Homo sapiens: one gene and its partner. The protein of the gene in region 2 purifies or fractionates together with the protein of the main gene of each other region. This does not show direct contact. Each region holds a gene or a part of one and is shown on either strand. Other genes may lie near its edges. The genes, in order: RTN3 and PRTFDC1.

Region 1 (3,821 bases), on a different chromosome or scaffold from region 2:
TTTCTGAATTATATTCACTCATGTCAAGTCCTGTAGTTTTTGTGATGCAGTCAGAAGATTTATCGGTCTGTTGTTTCACTTGGGGAACCAGATCCCAAGTCAGTATTTCGTTAGTAAAGTTATGCATATCATTCACGCATCTGGACACCTCTTCCAGTGCTGCATTTGTGTGTGAAAACTGCCTACTGAGCAATGCAGACATTGGGTAACGTCCTGCCTCTTTATTTCTCAGTGGAAAAAGCTTGTCATTAGTCTCTGAAATGTCTTCGGATGATTCTTTATCAGTGTGCACAGACCAGCTACCAAAATCATCTGTGCTCTCCTTATATGAGTCTTTAAATTCTTTGTCAAATGCTGCTTTGTCAATAATTACTTCAAATGGTGATTCAGGGGAATCCTTTTCAATAACATCATCTCCTGAAACTTTGGATGGAGACAAAGAATATGTATAAATGCCTTCTACCTTAGAGTACTCAGTAGGTGGTTTCTGGGCTGTCAGCAAAGTGAATCTGTCATCAGCATCCAATGCAGTTTTAGCCTCCCTACTTGATACCCCATTTGGGTTCTTGGTCTCTTTATCTATTTGCTCTTCCACTTGACCAATTTTCTTTGAGAGAAAAGCAGGATGCTCTGGGAAACTGGCTGGAATAGAAGGACGGTCACAATGAACTCCTGCTGCAAGAGAAACTGAAGAGTCTGATACGTTGTTGCTGGTCCCCTGAGGCTTTTCCATCTTTTTCATATCTAGAAGATCCAAGTGGTCTTTTCCTTCTTTGGCTAAAATAGGCTGGCTCCCTAACACATGGCTTTTTTCTCCATGTAGTATTGTAAGGCCAGTGTTATGTATTTCAGAAGATGAAAGAAAGGAAGAAGTCATAATTTCTGAAGATGGCTCATCAGAGCAAAGAGAGCTCAATCCCTCTATGATCAGAATTTCAAAGAAAAAAATTGTTTACCAGGTACAATTACACATTAGCTAGCCAAGCCAAGCAGCATGCTTTTTATTTTTTAAATTACATAAATATATATATACACACACAGGATGTATATATACACACATAAATATGTAACAAAACGATCAAGTTATCCTACAGGACATGCATAAAACTGCCAACAGTGAAACAGAAAAGCCATATCATGCCACAAACTGCAAATGATAAAAAATTTTCATGACAAATACTTTTGGTCTACTTTTCCATTGTACAGAGAAAGCATAAAGAAGGGCGGTAAGATTGAGAAATCTTGGGAGGTTTTTTATTCTTTGATAGAGCTAATCAACAAAAGCAAAATAATTTATACAAAACAAATAACCTGATACTATAAAGGGTTGATAGACTTCAATCTGTAAGCTGAACAATTCAGAGCACAGACTGCCTCTATAAATCTGTTAGTCTCACAATCTGAAAAGGAAAAAAACTAGTGGCCAGACTTTTTTGATTTTTAGGAGATGCAATGGGCCCTTCCTGAATCTGAAAAATGAGACTAGAATTATTCTATTCTATCCACAGGGAGAATCTGTCCCATGTACAAATAAATAGCTGTGATGTTCTAAACTAAAGGGTACTGAAAAAGGTGGACCCCCTCCAAAATCTTTTTTTTTTTTTTTTGATACGGAGTCTTTTTCTTGTTGCCCAGGCTGAAGTGCAATGGCGCAATCTCAGCTCACTGCAACCTCCACCTCCCAGGTTCAAGCCATTCTCCTGCCTCAGCCTCTCAAGTAGCTGGGATTACAGGCAGGCACCATCAAGCCCAGCTAATTTTTGTATTTTTAGAAGAGATGGGGTTTCACCATGTTGGCCAGGCTGGTCTCTTAACTCCTGACCTCAAGTGATCCACCCGCCTTGGCCTCCCAAAGTGCTGGGATTACAGGTGTGAGCCGCTACGCCTGGCCCCTCCAAAATCTCTTGTACTAACTTGTCATTTAAATCAATATTGTACTGTGCAAATTGATTTCTTTGGTTAAGACAGAGTTAACTTGGCTGGGTGCAGTGGCTCACCTGAGGTCAGGAGTTCGAGACCAGCCTGACCAAAATGGTGAAACCTCATCTCTACTAAAGATACAAAAAAATTAGCCGGGCGTGGTGGCAGGCACCTGTAATTCCAGCTACTCGGGAGGCTGAGGCAGGAGAATCCTTTGAACCCAGGAGGCAGACATTGATGGCAGTGAGCTGAGGTCACGCCATCGCACCCCAGCCTGGGCAACAAGAGTGAAACTGTCTCAAAAAAAAAAAAAAAAAAAAAAAAAAAGACAGAGTTAACTCCAGAATTACTTTTAAAATAGAAAATATCCTTCTCAAAGTAATACGTTAAGTCTTATCAGTTAATACCATAGTAGCCATCAATCTACCACACTGTTTTCTAACTTCCCACTCTAACAAATTTTTACTGGGGAAAAGGATCAAAACAAATATCCCAAGGGCTGGTGCTTTCTTACTTCATTTATTTGTTTGTTTGTATTTGAGAGAGGGTCTCCCTCTGTCCTCCAGGCTGGAGTGCCAGTGGTACAATTGTGGCTCACTGCAGCCTTGACCTCCTGGCCTCAAGCTATCCTCCCACCTCAGCCTCCCAAGTAGCTGGGACCACAGGCACATGCCACCACACCTGGCTAATTTTTAAACTTTCTTTTCTTTTTTTTTTTTTTTTGTTTTTTTTTTGAGACGGAGTCTTGCTCTGTCGCCCAGGCTGGAGTGTAGTGGCGCGATCTCTGCTCACTGCAAGCTCCGCCTCCCGGGTTCGCGCCATTCTCCTGCCTCAGTCTCCCAAGCAGTTGGGACTACAGGCACCCGCCGCCACGCCTGGCTAATTTTATTTTTGTATTTTTAGTAGAGACGGGGTTTCACCGTGTTAGCCAGAATGGTCTCGATCTCCTGACCCCGTGATCCGCCTGCCTCGGCCTCCCAAAGAGCTGGGAATACACGCATGAGCCACCGCGCCTGGCCTGATTTTTAAACTTTCTACAGACCTGGTGCCTCACTACATTGCCAGGTTGGTCTCAAACTACTGGGCTCAAGCAACCTGCCCACCTCGGCCTCCTGAAGTGCTGGGATTATAGGCATGAGCCACCACGCCCACCCTGGGCGCTGTCTTTCTTGCATACTGTTGTATCTTTGGAGCTGGGACAAAGTGGGTCTTAAATAAATAGCCCCAAATAAGTGAATCAAAGATTCAGCTTGGTCAGCTGAGACCTAAGTAGGCTCAGGACAGCAATGCCTTGAGCATGAATGAGTAACTGGGAAAATGTGACAGAGAAGTTCTTTTGGGATTACCTTTATTCAGCTTATGTTCCCTTTTTCATGTAAACATCCAAATACCAGATAAAAGCAAAATTATGACTTCATTCAAAATTATTTTATTAAAGACAAAAATATTTTACAATAAATAAAATTCCAGTATTATGAAAATGTTTTGAAATGCCATATAAAGTTCCCCTACTTCAACACATCACTGAAACTTGATGTAATAAGAGCTGAGCTTTAGAAATAGTATAACTGTAATCTGGTTATTAGAATAAAAAGTCTTTGTACATTCAAGGAAAACTGTAAAAGCTTGGTGGCAAAGCTATATTACCAAAACAAAACACTTGAAGTAAACTGTAATTCATATGTAGTTCTAATTTAGTAAACATGGTTTGCATCTACCATTATACAGTATGGATATTCAGCATGACTAGATTAGGGCATAACAGAAATGAAGCCCAGTATTGTAGGTTAAAAGGTTCAAAAATCTGAAGTGTGAAGTACTACAGATTACATTTAAATCAGAAATATTCCACAATCTGAGCCATGCATTGTTACTGAACTTACTAGTCAGTGTTTCTACCA
Region 2 (3,821 bases):
GCTCCTCCACCAGTGGCACCATTAACTAGTGGTCTTCTGAATCCATTCCTCCAACCACATCAATCCTTTACTGCCCCCGTTCTGGTTGAATCTTGGAGCATACTCTCCACTCCATGTTCAAGAGTTTGGCTCTGACACTTACTACTGTGATGTTAGGGAGATGACTTACTGTCTCTGAGATCCAGTTTCCCCTTGCTTTAAATAAGACACAGTAAAACCTATGGATAGGGTTATTATAAGGATAATGTACTTAGAATACCTGGAACACTGCATGGTGTATAATACATGATGTTTGACGCATAATGCCAAAAAAAGGAAACAGACTAAAAGTGCCAAAAATGAATGCCAAAAATAGGAAAAAAATGATAAGAAAATCACAAATGAAACAAACCTATAAACTGTAATATGGATCCATAGCCCAGAGGCCACACAGAGTAGTGTGTTAAGAGCATGGACATGGAAATCTCACACACCTGGGACAAGCCTGCCAGCCATGAGACCTTGGGCATATTAAATTCTCTTAGTGTATTCATCTATGAAATGGAGTTAGTGCCTGCCTCATATGGCTATGGTGAGCATTAAATAAGATAATGAATGTAAGACTCATATCAGTTTCTGGTCTACAGTACTTATGCAATAAATGCTAATCATTTAGATGAACTGAAACATCAATCATTTAACAACAAATTATATGTTTTAATTCATCTAAAGAAGTGCCTCAAACCTATATGCCAGTGTTATTATCTTAGTTAAAACTATACATTTGAGGCCTGGCACATTGGCTCATGCCTGTAATCCCAACACTTTGGGAGGCTGAAGTGGGAGGATCACTTGAGCCCAAGAGTGTGAGACCAGCCTGGGTAATATAATGAGAACCCATCTCTACAAAAAATAAAAAAAAAAATTGTTCTGGTGTGATGGCGTGTGCCTGTAGTTTCAGCTACTTGGGAAGCTGAGGCAGGAGGATGGCTTGAGTCTAGGAGGTCAAGGCTGTAGTAAGCCATGATCGCATCACTGCCCTCCAGCCTGGGTAGCAAAGTGAGATTGTCTCAAGAAAACAAAACAAAAAGTATAAAAGTAGAAGAAATATATTTCTCTAAAACTGTTCTATAATCCAAATTGGCCATTATTTTCAATTAATCTTAAATAGTGAGTTTTCATTGTTGAGATGAAAGTCGATTCAAGACGATGGAAATACTGGTTTATGCTTTGCTAACTTCAATGGTGCATGCAAATCGTGTTGTAAATAAATCAAAACCTGCAGGAATGGAGGTTGCTATGAACTGTAGATAACTGTTATTCACTTGCTTTTTAAAAAATCAAAACCAGAGTCTGTAGATAGTTTCAGTATCACAGATAATATGCTCTAAGTGTATTCAGTACAATGCTTTCTCTGTTCAAAACAGCAAAACATAGCCAAGCTGGGGGAAGTGACAAACCCATTAAGTGAGTCATTTTATGCAACATCCAAATCCCAGAAGTAATTCTGATTCTCTTTTTCGCACTGAAGATGCACTGAAAACTTTGTAAGTCATTAAAAATAATTTTTTTTGTGCTTAGACTATTTTTTGCATCATTTTTCTCCCTAAGGGAGAAAACACATACAAGAAGCTAATCTCTGCTCCTCTCCCCTGCTGAGCTCCACAGATTGGCCCTGTTCTCTCCTTCAGGCCATAGCTCTCATCTGTCCTCCACCAGCAAGAGAAAGGGGGTCTCATCCCTTCACTCTAATTCAAAGAATCCCAGACAGGAATTCTGGGATTCCTGTCCTAGCCCTAGAGCCAGGGAAGGAGGTACCCTGGGAAGGGCCCCACCTCACAACCATACATCTTGAAAAGTGGGGACAAGTGGTTTGCTAAAAGATTCCCAGGTTCTGCTCACAGAGGAATGAAGGAAGCTCGACAGGCCAACCACCTCCTATCCACATGCCTTCCTCTTCTGTGGTGGGTTTGCCCCACAGAAGGAAAACTCATTACCACCTAGTAGAGCTGTGCTTTCGATGGATTACTTATCTCTGATATTACCTGATTACTTATCTCTGATACTGCCGTATTTTCATGGGGGGTGACAGGAAGCCAGCCATAACAGAAACACAACAATCATTTCTGATTTCTCTCTTCTCCTGATTCCTACCAAACTCACTTAGGTAAGTACTAATAATAGCTCAGTTGATAATCATTTGGCAAAACCAAACCAGACAAAAACAAACAAACAAAAACATGTCTAATAACCCGATCCCCAAAAGCCAGGTGGATAGAGAAGATCTTTATCTCTCCCTGAGAAGTAACAAAGAGGTATCAACCAGGAATCTGGTGACTGTATTAGCTCCAGATCAAGTGACAAGCCAACTCTGAGCAAAATTTCTGACCTTAGGATCTACCTCTCTTATGTGGCAATTAGCATTTGCTACCATTTATTGTTAATGGTATAAATGTCCTACCTCCCCAGTTCAACCAAAAGCCAATTTATAGGCAAGAGCCATCTTAAATCTCTTAATATTCCCTTCTCTTGCACAAACTTTACTTCTCGTTTTATATTTATATCATCTGACTCTACATCCCTTGCCATCTTTATCAACAGATTTCTACCAACTCGGAATTTTCTTCTCTACCTCATTCCTGGACAATTCCTTGGCTGATTTACTCCAATGCCTACCTCAACGATCTTTCCAACGACTTCATCTTGTAGCTCCTTCACCAGCCTTAGCTCAAACTACATTCTTAACTCAAATCACATCTTTATTCCCCATTTAGCAATACATTCACATAGCCAGACCAGTCCTACAGATGGCCCCAACCCTGAAATTCCATCCTGGAATCACAGCTTGCTATGTAGTATAGTGATTGAAAGCTGGTTCAAATCCCGCTTCTGCCATTTGCTACTTATGCGACCTGGGTGATTTACTTAATCTCTCAGTGCCTCAGTTTCCTCTTCTGTAAAATGGGGAGCACACTAGACCTCCCTTACAGATTTGTGCTCAAGAAATGCTTGCTATTATTACCTGCCCTCTGCCCCTTTTTTCAGATGGGGTCTCACTCTGACACCCAGGCTGGAATGCAGTGGCACGATCATGGCTCACTGCAGCCTTGACTTCCTGGGCTCAGGTGCTTCTCCCACCTCAGCCTCCCCGGTAGCTGGGACTACAGGCATGCACCACCATGCCTGGCTAAGTTTTGTATTTTTTGTAGAGAGAGGGTTGGCTGCCCAGGCTGGTCTCGAACTCCTGGGCTCAAGTGATTTGCTCTCTCAGCCTCCCAAAGTGCTGGGATTACAGGTGTGAGCCACCACTCCCAGCCACCTGCCCCTTTTTAAAACTGGTACTAATTTGATTTTTTGTATCCCATCCTTGAGAGCTTTCTATTCTCCCAGTAAACTCATCCTCTCCAGCTCTCCCTTCCCTCCTGCCTTACATGCCATGAGCTGCCTTCTACCAGCAGCTTCGATTCGCTCTGAAGTTGCCTGCTTATATCCAACTTGAGGTTAATCTAATTATTCCAAGTTCTACTGGAGAAAAGGATGTAAATGTAGGGACTATCTCCATTATATGTGGATTATTTCCCACCTTTGTGGGCTCTCATGCAAGCACCAAGCCCCTTGGCAGCTGGTCCAGTTTATACTCATTTTTTTTGTTTATTTATTTATTTATTTATTTATTTTTTTTTTTTTTTTTAAGAAGGAGTTTCACTCTTGTTGCCTGGAGTGCAATGGTGCAATCTTGGATTGCTGCAACCTCCACCTTCCGGATTCAAGCAATTCTCCTGCTTCTGCCTCCCAAGTAGCTGTGATTACAGGCATGCACTACCATGCCAAGCTAATTTTGT

What was found.
Region 1: the proteins of PRTFDC1 (region 2) and RTN3 fractionate together in Homo sapiens (co-fractionation; one large-scale study listed by BioGRID). This does not show direct contact.

What each region holds. Positions count from the first base shown.
Region 1 is NC_000011.10:63,715,802-63,719,622, reverse strand, and holds part of RTN3 (reticulon-3), read right to left. Parts: intron 922-3,821; coding exon 1-921. UniProt on the Homo sapiens protein: May be involved in membrane trafficking in the early secretory pathway. Inhibits BACE1 activity and amyloid precursor protein processing. May induce caspase-8 cascade and apoptosis.
Region 2 is NC_000010.11:24,946,087-24,949,907, forward strand, and holds part of PRTFDC1 (phosphoribosyltransferase domain-containing protein 1), read right to left. Parts: intron 1-3,821. UniProt on the Homo sapiens protein: Has low, barely detectable phosphoribosyltransferase activity (in vitro). Binds GMP, IMP and alpha-D-5-phosphoribosyl 1-pyrophosphate (PRPP). Is not expected to contribute to purine metabolism or GMP salvage.